Homo sapiens: one gene and its partners. The protein of the gene in region 3 purifies or fractionates together with the protein of the main gene of each other region. This does not show direct contact. Each region holds a gene or a part of one and is shown on either strand. Other genes may lie near its edges.

The links.
Region 1: the proteins of TAOK2 (region 3) and PIP4K2A purify together in Homo sapiens (affinity purification with mass spectrometry; one large-scale study listed by BioGRID and IntAct). This does not show direct contact.
Region 2: the proteins of TAOK2 (region 3) and PDCD10 purify together in Homo sapiens (affinity purification with mass spectrometry; one large-scale study listed by BioGRID and IntAct). This does not show direct contact.
Region 4: the proteins of TAOK2 (region 3) and ALDH18A1 purify together in Homo sapiens (affinity purification with mass spectrometry; one large-scale study listed by BioGRID and IntAct). This does not show direct contact.
Region 5: the proteins of TAOK2 (region 3) and KLHL36 purify together in Homo sapiens (affinity purification with mass spectrometry; one large-scale study listed by BioGRID and IntAct). This does not show direct contact.
Region 6: the proteins of TAOK2 (region 3) and GLB1 purify together in Homo sapiens (affinity purification with mass spectrometry; one large-scale study listed by BioGRID and IntAct). This does not show direct contact.

What each region holds. Positions count from the first base shown.
Region 1 is NC_000010.11:22,535,542-22,540,753, reverse strand, and holds part of PIP4K2A (phosphatidylinositol 5-phosphate 4-kinase type-2 alpha), read left to right. Parts: intron 1-679; coding exon 680-783; intron 784-3,472; coding exon 3,473-3,553; 3' UTR 3,554-5,212. UniProt on the Homo sapiens protein: Catalyzes the phosphorylation of phosphatidylinositol 5-phosphate (PtdIns5P) on the fourth hydroxyl of the myo-inositol ring, to form phosphatidylinositol 4,5-bisphosphate (PtdIns(4,5)P2). Has both ATP- and GTP-dependent kinase activities.
Region 2 is NC_000003.12:167,698,882-167,704,093, forward strand, and holds part of PDCD10 (programmed cell death protein 10), read right to left. Parts: intron 1-5,212. UniProt on the Homo sapiens protein: Promotes cell proliferation. Modulates apoptotic pathways. Increases mitogen-activated protein kinase activity and STK26 activity. Important for cell migration, and for normal structure and assembly of the Golgi complex.
Region 3 is NC_000016.10:29,982,220-29,986,444, reverse strand, and holds part of TAOK2 (serine/threonine-protein kinase TAO2), read right to left. Parts: intron 3,712-4,225; coding exon 3,544-3,711; intron 3,395-3,543; coding exon of another isoform or gene 3,374-3,394; coding exon 3,113-3,373; intron 2,943-3,112; coding exon 2,781-2,942; intron 1,233-2,780; coding exon 867-1,232; intron 788-866; coding exon 584-787; intron 181-583; coding exon 1-180. UniProt on the Homo sapiens protein: Serine/threonine-protein kinase involved in different processes such as membrane blebbing and apoptotic bodies formation DNA damage response and MAPK14/p38 MAPK stress-activated MAPK cascade.
Region 4 is NC_000010.11:95,635,133-95,640,344, forward strand, and holds part of ALDH18A1 (delta-1-pyrroline-5-carboxylate synthase), read right to left. Parts: intron 2,305-5,212; coding exon 2,155-2,304; intron 2,066-2,154; coding exon 1,961-2,065; intron 1-1,960. UniProt on the Homo sapiens protein: Bifunctional enzyme that converts glutamate to glutamate 5-semialdehyde, an intermediate in the biosynthesis of proline, ornithine and arginine.
Region 5 is NC_000016.10:84,655,011-84,659,969, reverse strand, and holds part of KLHL36 (kelch-like protein 36), read right to left. Parts: intron 3,100-4,959; coding exon 2,026-3,099; intron 211-2,025; coding exon 53-210; intron 1-52.
Region 6 is NC_000003.12:33,012,492-33,017,703, forward strand, and holds part of GLB1 (beta-galactosidase isoform a preproprotein), read right to left. Parts: intron 4,350-5,212; coding exon 4,218-4,349; intron 1,820-4,217; coding exon 1,565-1,819; intron 1-1,564.

The DNA of each region.
Region 1 (5,212 bases), on a different chromosome or scaffold from region 3:
GAGAAACCCCATCTCTACTAAAAATATGAAATTAGCTGGGCATAGTGATGCATGCCTGTAATCCCGGCTACTCGGCAGGCTGAGGCAGGAGTCACTTGAACTCGGGAGGTGGAGGTTGCTGTGAGCCAAGATCGCACCATTGCACTCCAGCCTGGGCAACAAGAACAAAACTCTGTCTCAAAAAAAGAAAATAGACATTGGAGTGGATGTATGCCTTTATCCAGTTCTGATACTGTATCCAGTGAGAATTATGAACAGTTCTACCATTTGATGTAAAGGATTAGTGTACATAATTAGTTCTGTTTTATAGGGTATTTTTAAATAGCATATTTCTTCACACCAAAGCAATACACAATTATTAAAGAAAATGCAAATTAAAAAAAAAAAAAGACTCCGTTCCACCGTTGGATCTCCACTGTTGATACCCTGGTGTGATGATGTTTTTAGTTGTTAGGGTTGTTTCTTTTTAAATTGCAGGGGGACTGGGTCAGAGAGGCAAGCTGTGTGTTTAGTCAGGATCCGCAGGGGTGGTGTAGAGTTTGTCTCTGGACTCCTTCCATCCGCGTTCCATTGAATCCCCTCCCTCCAGGCTCACTTCTCCCTCCCTCCCTCCCTCAGCAGCAATGCTGGCACTGGTGTTGTCACATGTCCCACAGTCATTGCTCTCCTGTCTCTGCAGACTCGCCTAGGAAGGAGGTGTACTTCATGGCAATTATTGACATCCTTACTCATTATGATGCAAAAAAGAAAGCTGCCCATGCTGCAAAAACTGTTAAACATGGCGTGAGTATCTCCATTTTGTTTCCTTCTCTCTTTCTCTCCCTCTCTCTCTCTCTCTCTCCCTCTCTCTCTCTCTCTCTCTCTCTCCTGGCTCCTCTGTGTGACCTGTAACTCAGGGATCACTCCTTTCTGCCACTGAGCTGCTTTCTACTGAGCCATTCAAAGCCCTTTAGTGACGCTTGTTCCCTGGGGGCAAGTCATGTTCTGAGCGTAAGATACAGAACCCACAAACGCTTACTGCTCACTGCTGCTCTTACCACAGCTCCCTGTGGCTTCCAGCGAAGTCACTTAAACATGAACATCTCTTCTTTTTACACATGGCGGACACTAACAGGCATGCGCATCACTAGGATGTTACACAAATTCTTTTTTGTTTGAAAAATGTTCCAGAGATAAAAGTGCAAAAGAAGATAATGAAGTGTTCTAATATGAAATATTCAAAACTGAAGCATGATTGTCTGCTTAAGACACTTCCCAAGTATACAGGATTAATATTTCTTTTCTCACAGTGAGTTGTATTTTTTCTACTACAGAAATCTCTTGAGTGCAAAATCAAAGTTGCATAATATTACTCACCGTTAATGTTGCTTGATGGGAGTTTTCACTGCTCTAGCCATATGTTAAGCTATTTTATCCCCCATGAGAAGCCTATGAAAGAGATAGTAGTGTACCTGCTTTTGTCAGTTGGAGAAACTGAGGAAAATAGCTTCAGGAGTAACTTGCCAGGGCCTCATAGTAGCAAGTGGCAGAGATGAGATTCCTCCCCCGGACCCAGCCCCCTCCTGGCTCTGTGTTCATGCTCATCCCCTTGCCCTGCCTGCAAACACCTCCTGCCTGGCTGAACTTTACAGCTCGCCAAGTTTCAGGCTTGTATTGCAGGGTGCCATCTTTGTTTTGCAGAGGTCCTGAAAGCCATAGAGCCCACCCCACACAGATGAATGTATTCCCTGGTTTGTTGGCCCTGGAAGAAGAGGTGCTTCCCACAGACTGTGTAGAACTAATGAAGATTCACCAGAACCAAAAACTCACTTGAAACCTCTTCTTTTCTATTTTAAAATAGAAATCAGCCTAACAAACACAGTATTCTATTTGCCAAAGAAATATTTCAGTCACATTGTCGATAGCTATGGTATTCCTGCTGTGTGCAGAGCACAGACTGGGACCTCACCGCCCCCGAGCACGTCAGTAAGCAAGTGTGCCTGGTGGCTTCCCCCCAACAGAAATTTTTGAGTACTCTTTTTAAACAAACATCCGCACCAGGTGCACCACCCCCATTCCGTCATTTCTGAGGCCAGTTCAGGAGGGTGAGGGAGGGGTCTTCAGAAGACTCCATGGTCATTCTGATGCTCACCTCTGGTTGAAAACCATGGAGTGTGGCAAAGAGAGAACTGGCGAGGAATCCTCGTTTGACCCTTCCCACTTGTATGACCTCAAGGGGACACTTTTGGAGCTCCTGTTTTTTCACCTCATACAGAAATCCTACTGCCTTGCTGATGGGGTTTTGCCAGAGATACAAGAGTTGTCTGGACAAATGCTTTGTAAATGTCTGTTCCCATATTATACATCCTGTGAAATTGGAGTGTATCCTAGCCAATATGGCTCCATGTTCATCTCTCCTATCCTAGCCAATATGGCTCCATGTTCATCTCCCCATAAGCCACAAGTTCGCCTCCATAGTGTGCCACACGGCATAAAATCACAGGTAGTTTGCAAGAAGAAAACATTACTGTCAGCAAAGGAACGCTGTGTTAAGCTGCTGTGGGGGACCATTCTCTCTGCATTCAAGCCTGGGCTCCTCCATGCAGCCGAGGCCTGGAAATATTACAAGTTCCCCGGTGAACATGGGTGTCTAAAAACAGCACATGCTCACTTAGCAAAACTCCGTGCTTGCCCTTTGCAGCTCAGGAAACTGGCCAGTGAGTGACTCCCTTGAGTGTGCTGGCCTGCACCCTGCATCTCATCATGGAAAAATCCCTCACCGTGCTTCTGCAGGGGGCCAGGCTTGCTTGCTCTCTGCAGGGCTCAGAAAGGGGAACAGTGGCACCCCTGTGTGCTGCTGCAGAGGGAAGTCAGCTCCTTCCCCCGTGGGCAAGATGGAGCCAGCAGTGTTGTGCCTCACCTGGTTACGGTGCAGGGAATGGGCTGGGGGCAGCTGTCCCAGAACCTGTGGCTGCTGCTGTTGCCCCTCATGTTTGAGCACTGAGCTGGGGGCCTCTGTCCAGAAACGAAGGGGTCCTGAAGAAATCATGCGGTTTTAAGTCATCGTCATTAAGGTTTCCCTTTCGCCAAATGTTGATGTCATTCTCAAGGTGGCTCCAGTCTGCCTTCTTGAAAAGTATAACATAAGTATTGTTTCCGTGACTTCTGAACAATTCCACTCTTTGATAGTAACATCCCAAACGTGGCCTGTTTGATTTTTTTGTGAGTTGCAACAGCCCCGGTGTGTGTGGTAGCATCTGGTGCTCCTGTCGCCCTTTGTCTCATTTGCAGACACAGATTTGTAAGAACCTTGCTTATTCAACCATGAGCGCCAAGATATTTTGAGTGATGTTTTTCAGAGCAGAGACTGCATGGATTTGAAAATTGCTTGCTGTATATTCAGTTGCCATTGGAAATAGCTGTAGATATTGAGTAATAATTTGGGGAAATCATAAACACTATGTCAATATTTCCTTTTTTAAAAACTGCCCAGGCTGGCGCGGAGATCTCCACCGTGAACCCAGAACAGTATTCAAAGCGCTTTTTGGACTTTATTGGCCACATCTTGACGTAACCTCCTGCGCAGCCTCGGACAGACATGAACATTGGATGGACAGAGGTGGCTTCGGTGTAGGAAAAATGAAAACCAAACTCAGTGAAGTACTCATCTTGCAGGAAGCAAACCTCCTTGTTTACATCTTCAGGCCAAGATGACTGATTTGGGGGCTACTCGCTTTACAGCTACCTGATTTTCCCAGCATCGTTCTAGCTATTTCTGACTTTGTGTATATGTGTGTGTGTGTGTGTTGGGGGGGGGTGAGTGTGTGCGCGCGTGTGCATTTTAAAAGTCATAAATTAATTAAAACAGATCCACTTCGGTCAGTATGTGTCCCAACAAAGACCCTTTGATTCCAGCTATGGCCGAATGAATGAGTGAGTGAGTGAGTGAGTGAATGAACACACGTGTGGGGGAGGGGAGAAGGAAGTGCATGATGTCAGGCACCGTGTTGGCATCACACAACAAACTGTGGATCAGTTTTTTTTTTTTTTTTTTTTTTTTGGAGTTGAAAGATGTGAGACAGTATTCAGAATAATGAAGATAATAATGATGATTATTATAATAATGATGATGATTCCAAGGAAAAAACCTACAGCGAATGTTCCATTTCTACCCCGCACGCAGACACTCTCCCTAACACTGATAACCTGAGCCCCCAGCACTGGACGGAAGAATGCTGGCGTCTCCGTGTGTACTGGTTCAGGGTTCTGGCCCCAGCCTTGTCAGGACCCCCTGGTGTCCAGAGCCCCCACCCCTCCCGCAACAAGCAGCTGATGCCCCAGTGATTCTCTATACATTTTTCACCTCGGCCAATATGTCCAGGAAAACTGCTTACTTCTCTTTTCTTGCCTGGAGCCTTCATTGTTCACCCTTACGTTGCAATATAGGAATTAATGCTACAAAATAAAAGTAAAGCTTACCTGAAAAGTGCATAGTTTGGGGCAATGGTATCTACATCTCCCACTGTGGGAAAACCAGCAAAGCATCAAAACTCTCAATTCTCCTGTTACCAAATGCAGATCTGAATTATAAGATGTTTATGTTTGACCATTGTTTCAACAATGGGATTTTGTTACGAATTATCCCTTTAACTGAAACCCTCAGTTTTACTGTTTACATTATTAGGAAAACAGGGATATCTTTTGAATCTAAAAATTTGATGTACAGCATGTGATTTTTGAAGTTTACATGTAAAGTCACAGTATAGGTGAAATAACGTTTGTCATATTTTGAGACGTATCCTGCAGCCATGTTTTTACGTGAGTGTTTTAGTCAAAGTACATGGTAGACAGTCTTTCACAATAAAAGGAAAAGGATTTTTTTTTCCTCCAAATGTACATTTATCAACCTAATGATTGATTTTTTTAAAAAGAGATTTCGCCCCAGTCTGGTTTATGAAAGTTCATTGCCCTAAACTGTGCTGATTGTTTTTAATCAAGTTATAAATTTCCAACCTAGATCATGTATCTACCAACTCTCCTGCATTTTCCAAAAGGCATTGAGCTTAAATATTAGTCTTGCTTAGAGTAGGTTATCCACTTACATGCTGCGCTAAAGCCATGCCTTTGAAACTCCTTGTTTAAAACATGATATGATTTTTGTGGGCAGTTTCAGAAAAGAAAACAAACAAACAAAAATCGACCCTTTAATTATTACTTGCAACTCAACAGATCT
Region 2 (5,212 bases), on a different chromosome or scaffold from region 3:
CTAAAGCTAGAGCATTACAAAAGTCTCACAAAGGTCCCTAACTTTCTCAGTTTTCAGTGTCCTTAGTGCCAAAAGATACACCTCACAGTGCTGTTTATTAAATACTTAGGTCTAAACAACTTAATAAGTATAGTGTCCTAACTACCTAGCCTTTAAAAAAATAATACACATAAATTGAAAAAAACAATTTTTACTCTGTTCTTAAATAACTATTGTCACTTATTACTGGGATGTGTGTGCCTACTGGGCACTTCATAATTTCTCAAACATTGGTCTTAGATTGGACCTTGCCCCTCTCATTTCCTCTTGCAGATATATTTTTTTCTGGTACTTCTGTTAGATCATAGCACTGGCCAAAAAGTCCAGCTTCTCAATGATCTAACACCAATGAAAGCAGTGAAGGACAATCCAATATGCTAAATTGCAATCCATCTCAAGCTAGGAGTCCATGCAGTGTCAAACAGATGTTGAGTATCACTGTACACCTTCACAATTTTAAAATACTTCGTGGCACCCCTCTGAATTTGCTATGGGCCACCAGGTACCTCAGTACATAGTTTGGAAGGAGTAGTCTCAGTACCTCCTGGCTAAAAACCTGGTTAAGCTAATTCTTATTTCAAAAGCTTGAATTTACCAAATGGCTCTGACTGACAAAATGAATAAATATGGTCTTAAATCAGGGAGACAATCTACAACTCTTAGGTTTTCCCTCAGAATACAACATGAACCCTGTAGGGTGTCTAATCTTTGTAAAGAATCCAGCTGTAAGAAAAAAATAAACCGAAGGGCAGCAACATACACTCTTGTGGATCAGTGATTCTCAGTCTGGAAGACGGACAACCTATCGGAACCTCTCATAGAGGATAAGGGGGAGAGGGAATCAAGTAGAATATAGCTGACCCTTGAAGAACTGGTTTTAACTGCTCAGGTCCATTTACATGCAGATACTTTTCAATAAATATATAGGAAAAATTTTTGGAGATCAGCAACAATTTGAAAAAACTTATAGACAAACTGAGTAGCCTATAAGTAGTGAAAAAAATAATAAAAACACATGTTATGAATGCATAAAATATAGTTATCCACTAGTCTATTTTAGTATTTACTATAAAATAGATACAAATTATTAAAAAGTTAAAATTTATCAAAACTCACACGCAAACAGACTGTACATGGTGTTATTTGCAGTTAAAAGAAATATAAACAAATATACAGATGCAATATTAAATCATAACTGCACAAAATTAACTGTAGTACACGTGTATATGTAATAAGTTTGAAGCCACCTCCTGTTGCTATTGCAGTCAGTTCAAGTATTAGTAAGTATATGATTAAAACGCCATGTGACTCTAATCAACTCCATGTGAACAGTTCATCTCTCCAGCAAACTGCACATCCCAGTACAAAGTAATACCTCCCAGCCCTCACATATTTTTCTCATCGTGTTTAGTGCAATACTTTAAACATGGGATAATACCATGGGACCCGACAAAGTGCCACTAGTGATGTTGGAAGTGTGCTCAAGAAGCAAAGTCATGACATTACAAGAAGGTGTATTGCATGATACTGAATTGCTTGAATACAGTCTAAGACTCACTGTAAGAAAAAAAAAAAAGGAAATTCATGAAACAAAGCCATTGCTGCAGCTACATCAGCAGGTACAAAAACCTTGCATGTTTTGTGAAATACCTTTTTGTCTCCTGTTGAAAATGCAGCTTTTATGTTGGTGCAGGATATCTATAAGAAAGGCATACCTATAGACCCTAATATGATTCAAGAAAAAGCAAAGTCATTCTATGACAACTTAAAGCAAAAGGAAAGTCTAAAGCTGAAGAATTTAATGCCAGCCAAGGATAGTTTGATAATTTTAGAAAGAGGTTTTGCTTAAAAAATGTCAAGATAACAGGAGACCCAGATTCTGATGACCAAGAGGCAGCAAATAAGTCCCCACACACCATTAAGAAAATCTTTGAGGAAAAAAATATCTGCCTGAAAAGGTTTTTAATACAGATCAAAGTGCCCTATTCTGAAGGAAAAAATAGCCACAAAGAATATTTATTAGTAAAGCAGAGAAGTGAGCACCAGAATTTAAGGCAGGAAGAGATAGGACAACTCTACTGTTCTGTGCAAATGAAGTCTGGTTTATGATCAGGACTGTCCTTATTTATAATGCTGCTAAACCCTCAAGCCTTGAAGGGAGAAGAAAAACACCAGCTTCCAGTCTTGTGGTTGTACAAGAAGACCTAGACAAAGAGAACCCTTGTTCTAGCCTGGTACCATCAATGCGTTGTTTCTGCGGTTAGAAAGCATCTTGGCAGGAAGGGATGGTCTTCTGAAGTTCTTCTGATTGTCTATATATATCTATAGAGATACCTATATATCTCTATATAGCTAGATCTACAGATATCAGATATATATTGAGATATCAGATATATATATAGATATCAGAGATATCTACATATACATACACACACATATATATGTATTGTATATTTAATTAGAGACAAGGTCTTCCTATGTTGCCTAGGCTGGTCTTGAACTTCTGGCCTCTGGCCTCACACTTCAGCCTCCCAAAGTGCTAGGATTACAAGGCATGGGCCTCCGCACCTAGCCTTTATTATTATTGTTGTTCAAAAAAATTCTTCTGATACTGGATAATGTCCCTTGCTTCCCAGAACCCCATGAGTTCAACACTGAAAGGCATCAAAGTGGCCTACTTGTCCCAAAACACCACACCTCTAAATCAGCCTCTACATCAGGGGATCAAGAACCTTTAAAGCTCATTATACATGGAACCATAAGGCCTCTATGGAAATGGCTGTCAACAATCCTTGGTAGAAAGAATACCATGAAAGTCTGGAAGAATTACACCACTGATGCTACTGTTGTTATAGAAAAACCCATCGAGCCTAAAACAATAAATTTCTGCTGGAGAAAACTGTGTCCACATGTTGTGCATGACTCCACAGGATTTACAACAGAGCCACGGAAATCATGAAAGAGATTGTAGATATGGTTAAAAAAAACGTAGAGGATGAAAGGTTTCAAGATATGGATATCAGAGAAATTTAAGAGCTAATGGACAATGAGGAAGAAGACAAAGGAGTGCCAGAAAACAAATGGACATTAGACAACCCAGCAGAAGAGTTCTCTTTATTCAAGGCTGCTTTATGACATGGACCCTTCTCTGATACAAGCACTGAAACTAAAGCAAATGTTGGAAGATTGGTACTGTACAGAAACATTTTTAGAGAAATGACAAAGCAAATAAGTCAGAAATTAAACATATTTCTGTAAAGTTACACTAAGTGTGCCTGCCTCTCTTGCCTCCCCATTCACCTTCTCTACTTCTGACATCCCTGAGCTAGCAAGACCAACCCCTTCTCTTCTTCCTCCTCCTCAGCGTATTCAATGTGAAAACGACAAGGATGCAGACCTTATGATGATCCACTTCAACTTAATGAATAATAAATATATTTTCTCTTATGATTTTCTTAATAACACTTTCTTTTCTGTGACTTTAAGAATACAGTATGTAATATATAGGATACACAAAACATATGTTAATCAACTGTTTTTGCTACCAGTAAGATGTTCTGGTCAACAGTAGGCTTTTAGTAGTTAAGATTTGTGGAAGTCAAAACTTATACTCAAATCTTCAACTCTGCAGGGGGTCAGCACCTCTAACCTCCACACTGTTCAAAGGTTAACTGTATATACATTAAAATATTCAATGGTATTATCTTGGGAAAAACTATTTTAATCCTCTTTTCCCTCCAAATAACAAAAACCATGATGAAAATTATTGTCGTTGCGGACCAATAATTGGAATTATGAATATAAAAGATTTTATGACTGGTGAGGTTTCTTTCATCTTTTTCAAAAGTTGTAATTTAAAAAATACAAGCATCTTTACATTTTTAACATGTCCTCCTTCAATTTCACTTGAAATGTAACAAACTAAATGTGATAATTAAAAATACATCAGTGTAAAATTAGTTACTTTGTTTTCTTCCAAAATAAGTAATCTATGCCATAGACAACAAACTTTATCCATGGATCAAACCACATCTATCACGGTCACATAATTGTACTTAAGTGTTAGATAATTAGCTTATATGTTAGGATGTTACAAGAAAAACCCTCAGGAAATTTATTATTTTATTTTATGAATGTCATTGAAGATACTATCTACTCCTTCGGACAGGGTCTTCTTCTCTCTGTTCCTGGCATTAGAAAAGCTGAAATATTGACTTTTCTCTTAGCAATACTACTGTACAGATTACTTTTCCTTCTTCTTTTGGCCACAAAGATGCTTAAGATAGCATCATGTCTCCCTAATGACCAAATATGCCATTCCAAAGCCAAACTGACACTCAAAGAAGAAAACAACAATAAAAAAAAAGAAAATGATTATGGTGTTGCTTCATTAACCCAATGATTTGGCAGGATGCAATTTAATGAAGCTACTAAATATATATGTACTCACCTTGAATCACAGAATATTAAATCAAAAAAGCTCTATTCTAACATACGTAATGTAGATTATTAAAGTAATATGAGATACCTAGTGACATGACTTGTGCTACCAGAAAAGAGTGTTATCAATAAACTTGTGTGACATGGAAGAAATCAAGCAGAATGGGCTTATAGTTTCAACTCCAATTAAAATATAAATGTATTCCACATTTAAACATTAAAATACTTTACCTAAAACACAGGTTATTTGAGCTACTGATGGGAAGGAATGCAAAAATAAAAATTAAAGTTTTGGGCACCATAATATATATTTGGGATGGAGGACCAGATAAAAGTTTTATATTAAAGAATGCATTCAACATGTACAGTAAGTCTCTAGAGTAGGGCTGTACAACAGAAATGTAATATCAGCAACAACTATGAGCTACCTATGTAATATTAAGCGGCCACATTTAAAAAAAAGTAAAAAGACACAGGTAAAATTATTTTAATAGTACATCCAAAATATTATTTCAACATGTAATCATTATAAAATATTTATTACTAAGCTAGTTTACTTTCTTTTTCTTATATGAAGTCTTCAAAATCTGTGTGTATTTTAACTTGGAACATATCTTGATCTGACCTAGTCTTATTTTTAAATGCTCAAAAGCAACATGTGGCTAGTGATAACCCACTGAACAGCTCAAGTCTAAAGACAAGGAAAACATTTATTTTGAGTAACTTAACTGTA
Region 3 (4,225 bases):
ACGCCGCTTGTTGTACTCCAGCTGGTTGCCCAGCTCCGTCTGGTGCTGCAGGCGGGTGAGCTCAGCCCGCGTGCGCTGCACGGCCTGGAGCTGCCGCAGCTCCAGCTCCCGCGTGGCCTCGTGCTGCCGAAGCAGCAGTGCACACTCCAAGTCCTTCTGGGTCTGCTTCTTGTTCAGGTCCTGAGGCAGAAGAAATGCAGGGCCCGGGGCCTGGTCAGTATCAAGGAAGTGAGAGGCCAGGGCTCCTTGGCAGAGGGAGCTGGGGATGGCGGAAGAAACACAGGGCCCAGGGCCTGGTCAGTATCAAGGAAGTGAGGGGCCAGGGCTCCTTGGCAGAGGGAGCTGGGGATGGCAGGAGATGAGGGTGTAGGGGAGGCAAGCTCCTCCCTGGCCTGGGAAAAGAGGCCTAAGGAAATTCTGGCAGGGTCTGTTGGGGATGAGAAGTAAAAGGGGCACTGAAGCAAAGCTGAACTGTAACACTCGAGGGCCAAGGAGAAAGAAGACAAGAATGAGGAAAATGGAAAAGGGTGGGTCCCTGGGATCCACGAGTGAGCGGGAGGGGAACAGAGATTGGGATGCCTACCTCCCGCAGCAGGTCCTGGTCCAGGCTGTGCCGAGCCAGCAACATCTTGCGCTTGTACTGGCGACACTGCAGCTCAAAGTACTGGCGCTGCCGCCGCAGCAGCCCTGCTTCCTCCTCCGCCTGGCACTGCTGGAGCTGCTCCTTCTGCCGCAGCAGCCACTCGGCCTTCTCCCGCTTGGGAGTGCTGGGGTTCTCCTGGAGCTCCTGGGCGAGTGCAGAGGGAAGCAGGGTCAGGACCCACCTGGCTCGCCATCGGCTCCGCCCCCAAGCAGCCCTAGCTCACCTCCTTCAGCTGTTCCTTGCGAAGTTTGTAGGTCCGCTTCTGTGCCTCCAGCAGGGCAGCCAGCTCCTTCTTCTGCTGCCCAAGGATGTGCTGCTGGAACTTCCGCTCCTCGGCCTGGGCAGCTCGTGCCTCCTTCTCACCTATGGCCTGGTGCCGCCGGGCCAGCTTTTCTGCCTCTGCCCCAAAGCCAGCCCGCTGCGCCTCAAGCTCCCGCTGCAGCCGTGCACTGTGCTCCTCCCGTTCACCCCTCAGCCGTGACTCCAGGGCCAGCAGCTGCTTCTGGTGCTGTCGTCGCATCCGCTTATAGCCGCTCAGCTGCTCCCGCAGCGCAGAGTCCTGCTCATGCTCCTGGATCTGACGGCTGACCTGGGGAAGGAGAGAGGGTGAGAGCTGGGGCTCAGCCTGGCCCCTAGTTAATTAACACAAGGGGTCTTCCGTGGGGAAGAGCATGGGTTTTCAACTCATGGGTTTCATTCTCATTTAACACCTTCCTCACACACGGCCACTCTAGCCTGTTTCCTCAACTGGATAATGGTGATATTATCTACATCACAAGTTGGTGTGGCCGAATGATAAAAGGTGGCGAGCACAGGGCCTGGCACAAAAGTAGGAACAATCCATACTAATTTGAAACAGTGAGTCAGACATACCTGGGATCAAATCCCAGCTTTGCCACTTACCAAGCATGTGATCTCAAGTAAGTTAACTTCTCAAAGCACCAGTTCCCTCATCTGTTAAATGGGGAAATAATACCTCCTCATAGGGGCTGTGGGGTAAGTTCGGACTCTATCTAATAAGTGTTGGCTTCCTTCCCCTTCAGCAAACATGGTCGGCCTATCACTCCCCAGGTATTGAGGTGGGATCGGGGCCACAAGATGCTGGAATAACAAGAACACTGGGCTTGGACACCTTCATCCAAAGTCTGATCTCAGGTCTCATTCTCAATTGACTCTATGAGTGGCTCTCAAACTAGTCCCGGCAGCCAAGCCCCTGGCAGTCAAGACCTCTCAGCACAGTACCGCACAACACCATGGGATCTGAAGAATTGTTGGAACACAACCAGCACCAAGCAGAGGCCATAAGAACATACTAGACTTAATCAGTGGCCTCTAAGGGGATTGTTGACGCTCAAATGCAGCTCAGCAGGAACGTGATCTAAAAACATAGATGAAAAACTATGTTTTATGAAAAGCCTAAACACTTTTTCCTGTGAACTGAGAAAGACTGCCATGAGTTGATTTTAGGAGAGGACTAAGGGCCTGCTTACAGGAGCAGAGAGCCACCAAAGGCACTGGGGCAAGTGGCCCCTCTGAGCCACAGGTGCCTCATTTCTCCAATGGGATCTTACCCTTCCCCTCCCAGGGGGGCTGGGAGGGTTAACACAGGCCTGTGTGTAAGCCTGAGAGCTAACTGCTGGCATGAGACAGATATCTGAACACCATCCCTGCCCTCTGGGGCACAGAATCTGGCAAACCTATCATGATGCTGTTCAGGACCACCCAAGCACAGGGCACCCCCGGCACAGGGCTCCCCAGCACTGGACACCCCCAGCACAGGGCTCCACAGGCACAGGGCTCCCCCAGCACTGGGCTTCCCCAGCACACAACTGTGAAGCATCTGACTCACCAGAGGAGCCTGGGAAGGCAACCCAGGAGATGTCAGTTAAGTCAGGCCACAAAAACGGAGTAAGAGTTTGCCAAGCTAGAAACACCCAGATTGGGCCATATGACCAAAACAGTCCACTGGGAAGAGGAGGGAAGCAGGAGGGTTAAGGGGAGCAGGCAGGAGCCAGCAACAGAAAATGAGGGTAGAATCCAGACTCAATCCCATGCCACAGGGAGGAAATCATTTCTAGACTTAAAAAGACTTAAAAAACAGACAGCGAGCAGGCTGAGTGAGGATGGCTACACTCACCAGGGAGGCGGTTCGGATGGTGGCAAAGTGGTCTCGGTTACGGCAGTAGGCCCGGCGGCGGGCGGAAGAGGTGGTGGAAGTGGGAGCTGGGGCTGCAGGCGGCTGGAGAGGGCTGGGGGTTATCTCTGGCTGGTAGGGGTCATCATATAGGTTGTCAGAGCCCTAGAGGGAGATAGAAGGAACACCCAAGGCTCAGAGGCCACTGGGTCCAAAGAGAGCTACCTGAGGACAGCCAATCAGACTCAGAGGAGTGCTGCACTTAGGGAAGGAGGGCGAAGACCCAGGCAGTTCTAGAGCAGGTGGCTCGGGTCCCCCAAGGGTGAGCTGTGTACCGGCAGCCGGTGGATAATGGAGCTGTGAGAGGTGACTGTGTGCTCCCCCTCCTGCATCATGGCCATCTCCCGGGCTTCAGGGCCTTCTTCCTCCTCCTCCTCTTCCTCCTCCTCCTCCTCCTCTTCCTCGTTGTCTGAGGCATCTGCTAGGCTGTTGACGGAGCTGCTCTGGCTGGAGGCGCTGATGGACATGCTGGGCACTGAGTGGCTACTCTCGAGGCTGGTCAGAGTCCCGGCCCGGTGCATGTAGGGCTCGGCCTCCTGCGAACAGGGCGTAGGCTGCTGGACAGGGAAGGGGAAGCCCTGGGGCATATGCATGGAGGTAGCATGGGAAGATGGTGGTGTGAGTAGGGCTGGGGAAGGGGCCAAGCAACTGCAGGGGGCAGGCACACATGGGGTATAAAGAGGGGTGTTAGGGCAAGCTGGGTCACCTCTTCCTCCTCTGGGGCCTCGGCACCAGGGCCGTTGGGTGCCTCTTGGAACAGGATCTTCTTCATCTTGCGGTACTGCAGGTTGTCCAGCTCCCGCACGGCATCCTTGGTCCTCTGGATCAGGTCCATGATGACTGTGGGTGGCCGCTCCCGGAGCACAAAGCGGTGCTGGGGGAAGAGGGCACTGAGGTCTGCTGCCAACTCCCCTTCCCCCCACAACCCACAGCCCTTGGCATTCCCTCAGGCCTGAGGCACTCTTCTGGGGCCCACGCCCACCACGGGTTGATGCTGGCCTTATCCCAAGCCCTTCTCTCACAATTTTCTGTACCACCCAGTACCTACTCCCCAGACAGACTCTTCTTCCTCTAAGCATGGCTGACAGGCAGGGACAGTCAGGAGAACTGGATTCTCGTCCAGCTCCTCTACTAAAGGGCTATGTGACCTTGGACATGTCATGAGGCCCCTCTGGGCTTCATACAGTATCCTACAATTATAAAACAAGTGGGTCCAACTACATAATCTGAAGTTTCCAACTACGGCTCCTCAGGCCCCCATGGGTCTGTGAAGGGAATGGGGCCCCTCCATTTTTGATAATTCAAAAAACACCTAAGGGAAATCATACATTTACCCATGATAAGGCTACACAGGCTTTTGGCTTGCATTACATCAGATCAGTGGGGCA
Region 4 (5,212 bases), on a different chromosome or scaffold from region 3:
GTTGATGTCTTGGGGAAAAATAAAATGGAGCATATTTTTGAAAGGGAAGATCATGAACTCCTTTTCAGAAAAGCTTAGTGCTGTTGGACACAGGACTAGGTCCAAACTGAACATATAGATTCTAGTCACGATGGTGAAAGATCAAACAATTAATATAAACCCGTGTGTAGGAGAGACAAGCAGGAGATCTAAAGGTCCAGGAAAAATACCTGTCACCAAAATAGCTTCACAAACATGGCCTGGGGATCTCAGCATGAAGGTAGGAGATAAAGAGTCCCAAGAGGGAAAAGTACGTGTTTAGACAAGCGCAATCTGTTGAGGGAAAATCAGTTTCCCTTCTATGAAGAAAAAACAAGCTGTTTTAAGTGTTTAAGTCTTTAACCTGGCAAACCACCTACTGGAAATTTTCAAAAGCCACTGACAATGGTCTTCTATATAGGATTACTGAAGAAAATAAGGAACCACAGGAAAAGGTACAAAGGGCAAATATTTTCTGTAGATATGATGGCCTTGGGGGAAGACACAGGTGTGAGAGGAAAGAGCCCAGGGGTTGAAGCTTGTTGGGAACTGGAGGGGGCAGGGCTCTTCTTTCACTCAATGTAAATGGAAACAATGGCTGATGCTGCATGGACTCTTAATGCTACCATCATTCAAAACAAAATAAAACAAAAACAAACTCTCAAAAGGTTTCATCCCTGGGAAAAACCAAACCAAAGCAAAACCATAGCTCCCTGACTTGAGCTTCCTCACCTGGCTCCAGGCACTTTAAAAAAATTAAAGACCAAAGTTGTCATTGGACTGTGAAGAGAAACCAAATAATAAAGAAGAGTGATATAAATAGAGATTTATACTGTATTTATACTAACAGAAAAAAAGCTAAGACTACAGAAAGTGGGGTCCCCAGCCATAGGCAATGGGACAAGTCCGTGCCTTTCTGTTTTACCTCACTGACTTGAGGACACTCTGGTGTAATACCAGAACATCACTGTGGGTACAAACAGGCAAATGATGGAGAAACAAAAAAAAGTAACAGGAAATGAAGAAGCAAAACCTGAAACAATATATGTATATATAACAATATCACCTGTGTAAAATAACATCTGTGCATGTAGTGTACATGTAAAATAATATCCATAATATAAAATAACAGCTATTTTACATCTTTACAGGTAAAGGAATTTCAAAATAAAATAATTTGGGAGTTAGATTTTTTTTTCAGTTGTTTCCTGAAGTGACTGTTATTGAGATGTCTCTAGTGTGTAGTTGTACAGTTGATTAAGAATATAATTCAAAAAAATTCAGGAGATTTAGGTAAAAATGAAACAATGTAGAAAGAAGGTTCTAGAACATTTAGGGGTAGCCACCAAAAATTCGTAAGTCCCATGAGGACTGGAATCATGTCTGATTTGTTCACCACAGTATCCCCAATGCCCAAGACTGCTAGGTACACCATAGGTGCTCAATAAATATTTGCTGAATGAGTGAAAAACCAACCAATCACCAGCATTCCTCTTTCCCTTCAAAGCTTAATAAATATCTGCTATAAAAGGCAACCAACCAGGTGCAAAGAGAAGCAAGCCACCTGAAATCAAAGAAGCCAGTGAAATAAAGACATTTAACTTCTCTGTCTTCAGAAGTGTTAGCACTTGGAATCCTAAGTTATTAGTGTAACAAGAACTGATATTTACTGACAATGTATTATGTACCAAACACTATACTAAATGCTTTTCATATATTTTCTCACTGAGCCCTTCCAAAAATTATCTGAAATAGGCACTGATATTATCCCCATTTTCAGATGAGGAAACTGAGGCACAAAAAGGAAAAGAAACTTTCTTCAGATCTCAAGTAGCAAGTGATGAAGCTGACACCATATTCCAATAGTCTGGCTCCAGACCCCTTTGTTCCACAACAACCACCCTCACAGGTCCCACACCCATTTCAAAGCCCAGCCTCTCACCTGGGCAGCACAGATGCTGTACTGGGTAAACATAGCCTCATACAAGGCCATCAGCCCACTCTGTCCGGCAGCTGCACAGGCTCGTGCCTCTAAGACTGGAATTGCCTGTAATATACCAATGAGACAAGGTGTGGTAGGGAATGAGGGAAGAAGACCTGAAGATCCATTTCAATGTGTGGGGAAGCAGCACTCACCATTTCTTTCAGCTGGTTCTGCCCCGAGTGGAGGGCCTGCCGCACGCTCTGAGACAGAAGGATCTCATGGCGCAAGCGTTGTTTGCCAAAGGCTACGGCTCCACTGGTCACCAGCATCATCTCTCTGCCCTGATTCTGCAGCACTGATACCTGGGCATTGAGAAAGGAAAGGGGACTGTAAGTTACCGTACTGTCTCTTTCATCTCTTCACAAGGGATGGAGGTAGGGTGGGCTATCGAGTAGATCCCAAATGCTGGTTTATGAACCAGCATGTGGCTGGCTCTGGAAGAATCAGCCAGATTGGTAAAAACACAGATTCCTACATCCTGTCTCAAATTTCTATTTAGCAGGTGGCAGACAAAAATCAGACATTTTAATTTATTTTTTAATTAAAACAATTGGCTGGGCATGGTGGCTCATGCCTGTAATCCCAGCACTTTGGGAGGCCAAGGCAGGCACAATGCCTGAGCCCAGGAGGTTCAAGACCACCCAGGCAACATGGCAAGACCCAATCTCTACAAAAAGTACAAAATTTAGCCAGGCATGGTAGTGCATGCCAGCTACTTGGGAGGCTGAGGTAGGAGGATCACCTGAGCTCAGGGAGGTTAAGACTGCAGTAACCCATGATCGCACCACCACACTCCAACCTGGGCAATAGAATGAGAGAGATGCTGTCTCAAAAACAACAACAACAACAACAACAACAACAACAACAACAACAACACCCTAAGAAAAAAATTTTTTTAAGGCAGAGTCTTGCTCTGTCGCCCAGGCTGGAGTGCCGTGGCATGAATGTGGCTCACTGCAGCCTTGGCTGCCTAGGCTCAAGTGATCCTCCTGCCTCAGCCTCACAAGTAGCTGGAACTACAGGCTCATGCCACCATGCCCAGCTAATTTTTCTTTTTTAACACATTTTTGTAGAAACAGAGTCTCACTATGTTGCCCAGGCTGGCCTCAAACTTCTGGTCTTAATCCATCCTCCTGCCACGGCCTCCCAAAGCATTGGGATTACAGACATGAGCCACCATGCCTGGCCTAAGTAAGACATTTTTAATGAGGAAATTCTGGTGTGTAGCCAAGTTTGACATCTATAGGACTTGACTGTATTAGGTTGGTGCAAAAGTAATTGCAGTTTTACCATTGACAGTAATGGCAAAAACCACAATTACTTTTGTGCCAACCTAATATTTGCAGGGAGTGTGTAATGCAGAAGGCCTAGTTCCTCCAAGAAATGAAGCCCAGAATAAAAGTCCGCAGGTAGGAAATGCAACGCAGACTCAGTAGATGGCTTCTCAGGTTCTAAGGCTTAACCCGGGTAAAGGAGGCTGTTCTGGTGGCATGTCTAATCCTATGGGTTGCCTCTGCCTACACCAGGGGCACATGCTGACCTTGTTCTGCTCTGTCTGCCCAAGACCAAATGCGGTCACTTTGTTTCCTACCTTAAGCAGACCTACATGAAAAAATTAAAGACTCAAGATGTAATAAAGTCAATATTCCTAAACTGTCCTTTCCTTCTGATGTCTGAAACCTTTTAACTGGTCCAGCTGTTTAACAAACAGCTATGATAAACCATGATTTAAAACAATAATAACTTTTTTTTTTTTGAAACACAGTCTTGCTTTGTCACCCATGCTGGAGGACAGTGGCACAATCATGGCTCACTGTAGCCCTGACCTCCAGGACTCAAGCAACCCCCTGACCTCAGCCCCTTGAGTAGCCACCTTGGCTTCCCAAAGTGCTGGGATTACAGGTGTGAGCCACTGTGCCTGGCCCCGACAATAATATTTTATCACAGAAAGTTTCAGCTGGCTGAGGTGGGACGACTGCTTGAGGCCAGGAATTCGAAACCAGCCTGAGCAAAATAGTAAGACCCCATATCTATGAAAAATTAAAAAAAATAATAGCCAAGTAGCATGTGCCTGTAGTCCCAGCTACTCAGGAGGCTGAAGAAGGATCCCAACTGAGCCCTGGAGTTCAGGGCTGCAGTGAACTATGATTACACCACTGCATTCCAGTCTAGGTGACAGAGCAAGACCCTCTCTCTAAAATAAATAAAAAGAAAAAGAAAAAGAAAATTTAATACTTAACCAAAGTGCTGAGAATAGTATTATAAATCCCCATGTACATACCACCCAGTTTCACCAACTATCTCTCATGGCCAACTTCCCACTCTCCAATAACCCCTCTATACCCTCACCATTGTTTTAATACAAATTCCAGGCAACAGACATGTTATTTCATCTGTAAATAGCTCAGTAATAACTGCTAAAAGATAATCATATATATTATATATAATATATAATTATATGTCTTTCTCTCTCCACAAATCCATTATCTGGAATATTTCAATGATTTCCTTCATATCAAATAGCCAGTGTTCATATTTTTCCAATTTTTTTTTACCTTGCTCAAATTGAGATGCAAATTAAACCCTGCATTACAAATTAATTGAAGTGTCTCTCAAGTCTCTTTCATTCATGGGTTCCCTTCTCCATCAGTTTTCCCCCTTGTAATTTTTTGTTAAACTGAGTTGTTTATTCTTTAGGATTTCCCAGCCTACATTTTCCCAATTGTGTCCTTATGGTATTAATACTGCTCTTTGTATACCCTATAAACTGCTGTTTGGTATGAAGGCTTTTTTTTTTTTCCCCAACAAGTCTTTATAAGTTGTGGTGTACATGTTCATCAAGGGGATACATAATGCCTGGTTATCTTTCTTTTTGTGATGTTAGCATCTGTTGATGATCATTGCCAAGATCCATTATTCCATTAGGAGATGCAAAATGCTGACACTCTAACTCAATGATTCCTTCGTCATTTATAATCTGGAATAATTCCAAAAGGGAAACTCTCCTTTACCAACTATTTGGTTACCCTGAGGTACAGTTTGTCTATGAAAAGCAGGACAAATGTGTGTCTCTTCCCCTTTACTCATCCATTTTCAATATGAGTAGCTTCTCTAGTGGCCTCCAAAAATGGCCAATGAAGTTTTTTTTTTAAGTATAATTATGAACTCATGGATTTAAACATATTTTGTTGTATTGTGCAGTGATTCCCT
Region 5 (4,959 bases), about 55 Mb from region 3:
TGTCCCTTAAAAACATCCCATTTGGAGAACCTTCCACCAAGCCCCAGATCACCTTGGCAAGCCGGCCACATAGGACCAGGAGTCAGTCTTGGGACTGTACGTCTCTACTGAAGAGAGCGCTCCGTTCTCATTCCGGCCGCCGATGGCCACCAGCATGTCTTCGATGGAGGCAAGGTAGAAATCCACACGGCGCTGGTTCATGGAGGCCACCTGTGGAGTTGAGATACCTGTACCTTCCCTTCCCCGAACCCGGGACAGCATCAACATCTGGCGCTGCGGTTCCCAAATGTGTCTGCGGAATGCACAACCCCGGAGAATGTTTGGGAAAGGGAACTGCACCTGAATAAAGAGGGCTTCTTCAGGTGGGAGCTCTGAGCCCCCGAGGTTTCACCAAGATGCTCTGAATCCCCAAAAGTGGGATGGAGACGCTCTGAGTCCCCAAAAGGGGGATGGAGATGCTCTGAACCCCCGAACTTCTCTGGTCATGTCGTTAGCCGCGTGGATGGGAACTCTGTGGTCACAGGGGTCAGAATTGCTGATCTAGTGGCTTTATGAAATAAAAATTCATCTTTCCTCTCCCCACATCAGATTTGTAAAGTTAGTGCTGCTCTGCCACTCCGTGTTAACAGAGCAGGACGTGGCATTCGACAGGAAATTAAACAGAAGAGGCTGGGCGCGGTGGCTCACGCCTGTAATCCTGGCACTTTGGGAAGCCAAGGTGGGTGGATTACCTGAGGTCACGGAGTTCGAGACCAGCCTGGCCAACATGGTGAAACCCCGTCTCTACTGAAAATACAAAAATTAGCCGGGCGTGGTGGCAGGCGCCTGTAATTCCAGCTACTCAGTAGGTTGAGGCGCCAGAATTGTTTGAACCTGGGAGGCAGAGGTTGCAATTAGCCGAGATCGTGCCACTGCACTCCAGCTTGGGTGACAGAACAACTCTGTCTCACACACACACACACAAAAAGTAGAAGAGCCAACTTTTTTTTTTCTTTTTTTAAACGAATCCAAGGCAAACACACTGCTGCCACTGCTGCCAGGCTTCGGGAGGAGGCTCCAAAGCCAGGGACCCTTTCCAGTGGTGACACTTCGACCTTGGAGGGCAGTCTCAGATTTCTGAGAGTAAAATCAAAAGGTCAGCTGGAGTCCATTCTGACTGGGTTTTGAGCTGAGAACAGCACTGAGCTGGGCGCGACGCTGAGGTGTGAGTATAGAGGCTGAGATGGACTGTCCCGGGGACCGAGTGGCTGGAGAGCGCTCCCAGCAGAAAGGAGACACCTTCCCTACGCCAGGGGCTTGCCAGTCAACATGAGCTACTGCACTCCCTGTCCCCCACGTATTCCCAGAAGGGGAATCCAAAATGTGGAGAGGACAAGAATCTGAAATTTCCTAGCTATGACTTAGCCAGGCTGGGATGAGACCTCAGGTCTGACATCAAGGCCCACGCTCTTCCCAGAATCAGGACACAATACATGCCCAAGGGCCAGGCGTGAGCACTAGTGGTCTCCTTAAACTATCTCCCAAAATGCTTCCAGAGGAGCCCCACAGAGACTCCAGGACCTGGGGATGTTGAACCATGGATCAAACATCTAGACCCATGCTACTGTCCAATAGGGTAGCCACGCCTCGTGCGGCCACATACACTTACACGTCAATCGGTTAAAGTGAAATAAAATTGAAAATTGACTTCTTCAGTCGCACTGGCCACATTTCAAGTGCTCAGTCGCCACATGCGGCTGTGGCTACCGTATCGGGAAGTACAGACAGACCCTTCCATCTGCACAGAAAGCCCCGCCAGGCAGTGCTGCTCTGAACGATGACGGACCCCTCGAAGGGGTGGGTCGGCTCTCCCTCTCCCTGTCCAGGATGTAGGCCCCGGGGTATTCTGCTCGTCACTTTATCATCACACCTCATTCAGAAGCAGGATAGTTGTCAAGGCCCCAGAGAGGTAAGGAAAGTCAAGGCTAGGTTAAGGAAACCGAGAGAGTCCTCAAGAGAAAAGAAATAATCTGGCTTTAATCTCACCTTGATCCACTGTTTACAGCGGGGGTCATACCTATAAAGAAGATTGGAGGCCGCATCCCCTCCGTTGTCCCGTGAGAAGCTGCCGCCGGCGATGAAGATGAAGCCCCCCAGCACCGCGACACAGTGGTGGCTCCGCCGGGCGGGCAGCGGCGTCTCTTTGACCCACTGCTCGCTCTTGGCGTCCAGGTAGCAGGTGTCGTCACTGAGCTCCAGACACCGCTCGGAGACCTCGCCGCCCACAAACAGCAGGCGCTCCTGGTTGGTGCGCAGCGCCGTGCGCTTGGTCTGCATGACGGGCTGGGCCGCCAGGTTGTTGTGGTAGCGCACGGCCTCCTCGATGAAGCCCTCGCAGTTGGCCTCCTTGGGCAGCAGCGAGCACACGGCCGGCTTGACGCGGTGCAGCAGGTCGTTCTTGGGGATGAGCGGGAAGTGGATGTTCTCCAGCACCTGGCGGGCGTGGGCCTCGCGCTCGGGCTGCTGCGTCAGCCACTGCAGGGCGGCCTGCAGGAGGTCGTGCTCACACTCCCGCTGCACCTCGCTGCTGCTCAGGTAGACACACAGCTTCTGCATGGAGACGTTCTGCAGGAAGTCGGGCGTAAAGGACAGCGTGCCGAAGTGGTTCAGGATGAAGCCATCGATGAAGGCATCAAGCCGCTTGAGGCTGTAGATGGAGGCCAGCTCCTGCAGGTACAGGTAGTTGTCCTCGCTCACCTCCTGCTCCAGGTACTCACAGCAGAAGTCTACCACCGTCCAGATCTGCAGCAGGTGAGCCGTCTCCAGGACGTAGTCAATGTTGCCGCCATCCAGCACCAGCTCCCCGCCGTACAGGAAGTCCACCACGGCCTTGAGCCCAATGTAGGAGGCGCCGATCAGCTCCACCTCCTTCTGGAAAGCTTCCCGCATGCCGATGGTGAACATGGAGTTGAAGTAGTCGCTGCACACGGCCAGCAGGTTGCGATGGGCTGGCACACGCTGCTCATCGGCCACCAGGACGACGTCGCAGAAGAGCCCGCGGAGACGCTGCTCGTTCAGCCGCTGCAGCACCGTGCTTGAGTGGTCGGCCCAGCGGTATACCTGGACAGAGAAGACACATTAGAAACGGCGCAGCAGCCTGCTCGGCCCTGGTCCAACCCAGTGGGTCCTGACCAGCATTTTCAACAAAATGAAACTGAAGAAAACAGGAAATAAAATGCTGCATCAGAGGGCACTGCAGGAAGTACAGGTGTTTCTGAGTATGCCTGTGTATCGTGGTTTTTTTTTTCCTTCTCTTATTAATATAACTTCTTTCTTTCTTTCTTTCTTTTTTTTTTTTTGACACAGAGCCTTGCTCTGTCGCCCAGGCTGGAGTGCAGTGGCACAACCTCAGCTCACTGCAACCTCTGCCTCCCGGGTTCAAGTGATTCTCCTGCCTCAGCCTCCTGAGTAGCTGGGACGACAGCCCGGCTACTGGAGTTTGAGAGCAGCCTGGCCAACATGGTGAAACCCTGTCTCTACTAAAAATACAAAATTTAGCCAGGCATGGTGGCGTGTGCCTGTAATCCTAGCTACTCAGGAGGCTGAGGCAGGAGAATTGCTTGAACCCAGGAGATGGAGGTTGCAGTGAGCCAAGAGCACACCACTACACTCCAGCCTGGGAGACAGAGCAAGAACTCCGTCTCAAAAAACAAAAAACAAACAAACAAAACAAAACAAACAAGAAAAAACAAAAAACAAACCAAAAAAACCCAAAACCAAACAACACAACAATTCAAGCCAGGCATGGTGGCTCATGCCTGTAATCTCAATGCTTTGTGAGACTGAGACGGGAGAATCACTTGAGGCCAGGAAGTTCGAGACCAACCTGGGCAACATAGCGAGATTCCTGTCTTAACAAAATATTTAAAAATTAGGTGGGCGTGGTGGCATTCGCCTGTAGTCCCAGCTGCTCAGGAGGCTGAGGCAGGAGGATCGCTCAAGCCCAGGAGCTTGAGGCTGCAGTGAGCCATGATTGTGCCACTGCACTCCAGCCTGGACGACAAAAAGAAACCCTGTCTCTAAATAAATAAATAAATGAATTCAACATAGGGAGAAACAGGTAACTGAAAACTATCACATAGATAGCTGGTCTATTCCAGGGTGACTGAGGTGAAGAACTGGCTGGGCACTAGCCTGAAGAGGGGAAATGTGGTTGGAGGAAGAAAACTGACCGAGGGCTATTAGGTATTAGCAGCTATGTGGTTCGACTTTTTTTTTTTTTTTTTTGAGACAGGGTCTCACTCTGTTGCCCAGGCTGGAGTGCAGTGGCACAATCTCGGCTCACTGCACCCTTGACCTCCTGGGCTCAAGTGATTCTCCCACCTCAGCCTCCTGAGTAGCTGGGACTACGGGTGTGTGCCACCATGCCTGGCTAATTTTAAAATTTTTTTGTAGAGACGAGGTCTCACTATGTCGCCCTTGACCTCCTGGGCTCAAGTGATTCTTCCGCCTTAGCCTCCTGAGTAACTGGGACTACAGGCACACGCTACCACGCCTGTCTGATTTTTATAATTTGCAGGGACAACGTCTCCCTAAACTGCCCAGGCTCTGAATTCTTAAAAGTTGCTTCTTAACATGTGTCCTACAGCAGTGGGTTTTATTTTTTTCTTCCCTTTCAAATCTTCTTTTTGTTGCCATACATGCGTTTGTCATTGAGACACTTTATTTCCCTGTGGTATTTCCACATCCAGTCAATTCCAACAGCAACTTCTCTGTCCATGCTACAGGAGCAGGCCACATTCTCACAGCCTGTGGAGGATGCCAGACAGATCCGACTTGGCATTTCCTTCTGAGTTCAGAGGACGGGCTCTCCCGCTCTTCCATTCCAGGCTGGCTTTTCAGTTCACAGGTCACACACGTGGAGATCTCTATTTATCCTGGTTACCCACAAAGAGAGCCAGGCTGGCCTACACCGGGCTT
Region 6 (5,212 bases), on a different chromosome or scaffold from region 3:
GATGAAGTAGACTCTCACCAGACAGCAAATCTACTGGTGCCCTGATATTGAAGACTTCCTAGCCTCCAGAACTGTGAGAAATAAATGCCTGTTGTTTATAAGCCACCCAGCTTATGGTATTTTGTTATAGCAGCCCAAATAGACTAAGGCAGCTTTTCAAACACAATTGGTCTAAATTCAAACTCATGACCCCCCTTTCTAAGCCTAAGTCCCCTTCTGAAGCTGCTTCTTTCAGCAAATGGTACCATTCTGCCCAGCTGCAAGCTTGAGACCTGAGTCATCCGAGACATATCCCTCTCCCCAAACCCTCCTGTCCAATCCATTGTCACAATTTATTGATCCAACTTTGAACATCTCTCAAATAGTTGATGTCATCTCCATCTTAGATACCACCATCCCAGTTTCTCAATGAGACTATGGTCCAGCCTCCTAGATGGTTTCCTCGAATCCATAAGTGTCCTTACCCAAACCATTCTGCACAATGGGGTCAGAGGAGCTTGTCAGATCACAGTCTTATCATGTCACTCTCCTGCTTCAATGGCTCTCAACACAAAGACAAAACTTTAACGTGGCCTATAAGGCCCGTCCCAATCTAGTCTCTACCTACTTTCCACACTTGACATTTTCCCCTCCAACCCCATGGCCTTTGCACAAGCTGTTACCTCTCCCAGGAACATGCTTTCTTCCCTTCTTGCCATGCTAATTCTTACTCATCCTTCATATCTCTGACAAGCATCACTATCTTAGGGAAGGCTTCCCTGACCTCCCTGACAAGGCAAAATGCACCAATTATTATCAACCCCATAGCCCTTCTTAGCATCCATCACAGCTATGGTTTTACTTTTTAATATGAGTCTGCCTCCCTCACTAGACTGAAAGTTCCATGAGGGAAAGGACCATGTTTGGTTTTATTCATGATTGTATCCTTAGTGCCTGGCACACACCTTGGGCACATAGTGGCCACAGAATGAGAAGTGTGTTGAATGAGTGATGGTAAGGTGATCTAGGATGAAAACAGGACATGAGGGAGAGGAGAAGGCGGTGAAGGAAGATATGCCAATGTCTTCAAACGACAAGGCGGAGTGACTGGGAAGTGAAAATGGATGAGGAAGAGTGGAGAAGCAGACAGCTTATGATAGAAGCCCCAGGGGTGTGGGGCTGGATGCAGGTGGGGATATTCTGGGAGCACTGGGCTTGGCATAAATGAAAACCAGACAGACTCTCCCAGAGGGATCCACCTCTTTGTCTTGACTGGATTGTCCTCAAGATAAAGAGAAAGCACCCCTATAATCAGCATCAAAAGGGGTCATGATTCTTCTTGGAGGAGGCAGGATGGTGTCATTCACTACAGGAAGCCAATGACAAGGGGGCAGATGGCAGCACCTCCGAGCTGGCCACTGAATCCCTGAAGATCTGCCACAATCCGCCTCCTGAAGAATGTCCGAAACGCCACACTCAAAACCATCACACGATATCTCACTAACAGCTCTTTGTGATTCTTTCTCAGACACTAACAACCAAAAGTTTAGGCCTGAATTCAAACCCTTCCCATGAAGACACGTACCTTGGTCCATCCAGGAAACTGGATAAAGGTGTCCTGGGGCAAGTCTGGGATCCCACTGGGAATGGAGAAGTTCCCCATATAAAAGGCCGGGAGCGTGTAGTTGGATGAGTTGTGGGCCCAGGCTTCATCATGGTGGCCACTGTCACGGTGTCCCCAGCCCCCCAGGTGGCTGCACACTGCATCCTCAGTGTCCAGTGGAAAGATCGTCCAGTCCGTGAGGATATTGGAACTGAGAGTCAGGTTAGAAACCAAACCCTGCAAAGCAGAAACAGAGCACAGTGAGCTGGGGAGGGAAGGAAAAAGGCTTCACATGTCTCTGCATTCCAGGGAAATGGGAAAAGCAAACCGGGATACAAAACACCAACAGGAAATGAACCTCGAAATATGTGTACATCGAAGTAACACAGATCTAACTGGAGGTTGAATTACAAATCCTTGGGAAGAGATATATTCCCCAAACTATAGCTTTCTCCTTTGCAGGTCATGATGTCTCTATAAAAGGCCCAGAGTTTCTGCTTCTACAGAAAGGGCATTGAGTTGCTAGAGTGATTGATCCCAAATTCCCAAATTTTCAGAGTTTGGCTGAGAGCCACTGCTAGAATAGAGAAAGATGGGCACCAAGAAAGATGGGCCAGGCGCAGTGGCTCATGCCTGTAATCCCAGCACTTTGAGAGGCCAAGGCAGACAGATCACTTGAGGTTAGGAGTTCAAGACCAACCTGGCCAACATGATGAAACCCCATCTTTACTAAAAATACAAAAGTTAGCTGGGTGTGGTGGCAGGTGCCTGTAATCCCAGATACTCAGGAGGCTGAGGCATGAGAATCGCTTGAACCTGACAGGTGGAGGTTGCAGTGAGCTGAGATCGCGCCACTGTACTCCAGCCTGGGTGTCAGAGCGACACTCCATCTCAAAACAAAAAGGGATCCAGTCTCTACAAAACATACAGAAATTGGCCTAGTGTGGGGGCATGCACGTATAGTCCCAACTACTTGGGAGGCTGAGAAGGGAGGATTGCTTGAGCCCAGGAGACAGAGGTTGCAGTAAGCCGAGATTGTGCCACTGCGCTCCAGGCTGGGTGACAGCAAGATCCTGTCTCAAGATGGAATCTGGGGACAGAAGGAATGAGTGAGTGTGGGATACAAAGGAATAGTCATCCCACTGCGGATGGAGCAGGTACGACGGATGCAGCCAGGAGCAAATATTGGCCTTGAGCACCTCAGCCATCATCACAGGGAGGACCACACCCGAGTCACTCACCTGTTATGAGGGCCAAGTGAGATAACATACATGAGAATACTGTGATACCTTAAGAGGATAGGAAGGTAATGATGACGATGGCAAACCTCAGACCTGAATTCAGAAGCTGCTCTATTTGTTCCACACAGGCCAGGGCTGGGCTGTCAAGGCTCAGCTAACTTCCCCTTCCCTGGCTTGTATGTAGGGAACTTCCCCATTCCCAGTGGAATCCCAGATACCAAGTCTCGATTGCCCATTTAATAATTTGATAAATATTAACCAGGTGGCTGTATGTCAGGCTCTTTGACAGGTACTGGAGACCCAGAGACTACACAACAGAGTCGAGTCACTCCCATGGGTCAATGTGGCCTGTGAGAGCCAGGCAGGAGGCCATGAAGTCCACCCTGAGCACAAGAACTATGAGAGAGACATTTATACTGGAGGCAAAGGTGGCCTGCACACAGCTATTCCCTAAGTTCCCTAAGATGTAATTGCCTGATCTCAAGAGGGTCAGGAAATAGCCCCAGACACCTGTCCTGCCCTAGCCTGGGTGGTGCCATTGTTCCCTTGATAAGGCATTCTCTCCTCTCGCGGAGGTTGAGCTCCCTGAGAGAAGCCTGTCTCTTGACACCTTTGCATTCCCCAAAGCACCTGGTGGGGCATCTCGCGGAGTGGGAGCTTAACAAATGCTTGCTGAATAATGCTCTAAAAATATGTGTTAGAAAAACTTATTTGGGCTACACATCTGGACACAGGAGTAATCAACAGAGGTGAGAGCCAGTGCCCCAAGGGAAGAGGCTTCCTACAAGTGAAGAGTTTGCCACAGGCTAACCATCCAAACCCATAAAACAGGGCAGAACAGAGGCTCAGCTGGCTTTACTGGCAAAGGAGTGCCTTCAGTGAGCTTGGTGGTCTTTTAAAGCAGAGGAAAAGCATGGTGGAGGGGCTTCCTCCTTCTGTTTCTTTCTATAGGATGACCAAACTCAAACACAGGGGAAAGGTTCTGTTTGCAAAGCTCAACTTTCTCATCACCTACAGAGGAAAACAGCTCTTCAAAATAGCTCAACTACTTCTTTTTTTTGAGACAAGGTCTCACTTTGTCACCCAGACTAGAGTGCAGTGGCATGATCATAGGTCATTTTAATCTCCAACTTCTGGACTCAAGCAATTCTCCTGCCTCAGCCTCCTGAGTAGCTGAGACCACAGGTGCATGTCACCACACCTGGCTAAGTTTTTAATTCTTTGTAGAGGTCTCACTATTTTACCCAGGCTGGTCTTGAACTCCTGGCCTCAAGTGATCCTCCTGCCTTGGCTTCCCAAAGTGCTGAGATTACAGGTGTGAGCCACTGTACTGGGCTTCAACTTCTAAGTTGTCACCCCTTAAACCTTAGTCTTGACAGTGTGGTTTGTCCTACCTTAAAATCGTTGATATATGCACCATAGTTCACACGTCCCATGTTCTCTACCAGAAGGTCCAGAGTGGCTCCAGCTTTCCCTGTTATGTTCAGAGTGATCACATTGTTTCGCTCAAGGACTCCCTGGGGGATCTGTGGGGTTCAAGACCAAATGACAATTGAATTGAGGGTAAGAAGGTCAGCAAGGAGAGGCAGCATGCTCAGTTAATTTAGCACTCATTTTCTTGCCTTGAAGTGTCACCAGACTTGGAAAGAAATGCTTTGATAGCATCTTAGCCCAAGTTACCGGCCAGGTCGGAAAGATCCCCCAATCACTGCTTCCTAAACAGGAAAACTGCCAGACACAGCTCAGAGCATGGAACGGTCTAAGCTGGTTTCCTTTGCCCTGGAATGTTTTACTGCCAACTACTTTTAGTGGAAAATTCCAGGGGAGGATTCTTACTAGAGTAGCTGCTTCGTGTTCTGACAGCACAAAAGTCACTCACAAAAAATTGCTTCTGAACAACATGGAGAGATAAGACAAAATCAGACAAAAGAGATAAAATCAGAGAAGTTAGGTGGAGTATTCTCACCTCAAAATACTTGACATGATGCATTAACCACGAAAATCATACAACAGAATGAGGAAAAACAACAGGTATTTTATCAACAACATATTCCTAACTTTTTAAAAGGTTAGACTTTAAAAATTGACCTTACAATGATCATAATTCACTAAGACAACACCCAAGTTAGAAGCGAAGAAACAGTCACCATCAATAGAGCAGAATGTCTTAGTAATCTGCTCCCACTGAAATGAAAGCTGTTGATTACAAGAGAATGGGAAATATTTTAAAATCTTCTGAACAAATTTTCTTGGTGAAGAAAATCTTTTCCTGTGTTCCTTCCTGTGACCATTTCGGTGAGAGGACTGGAAGTCCTGAAATGCATCTGCTTTTGTTATGAAACACGGTTCTTTGTGCATTTCAGTAATAGTTGTCACGAGCAGTCCTTCA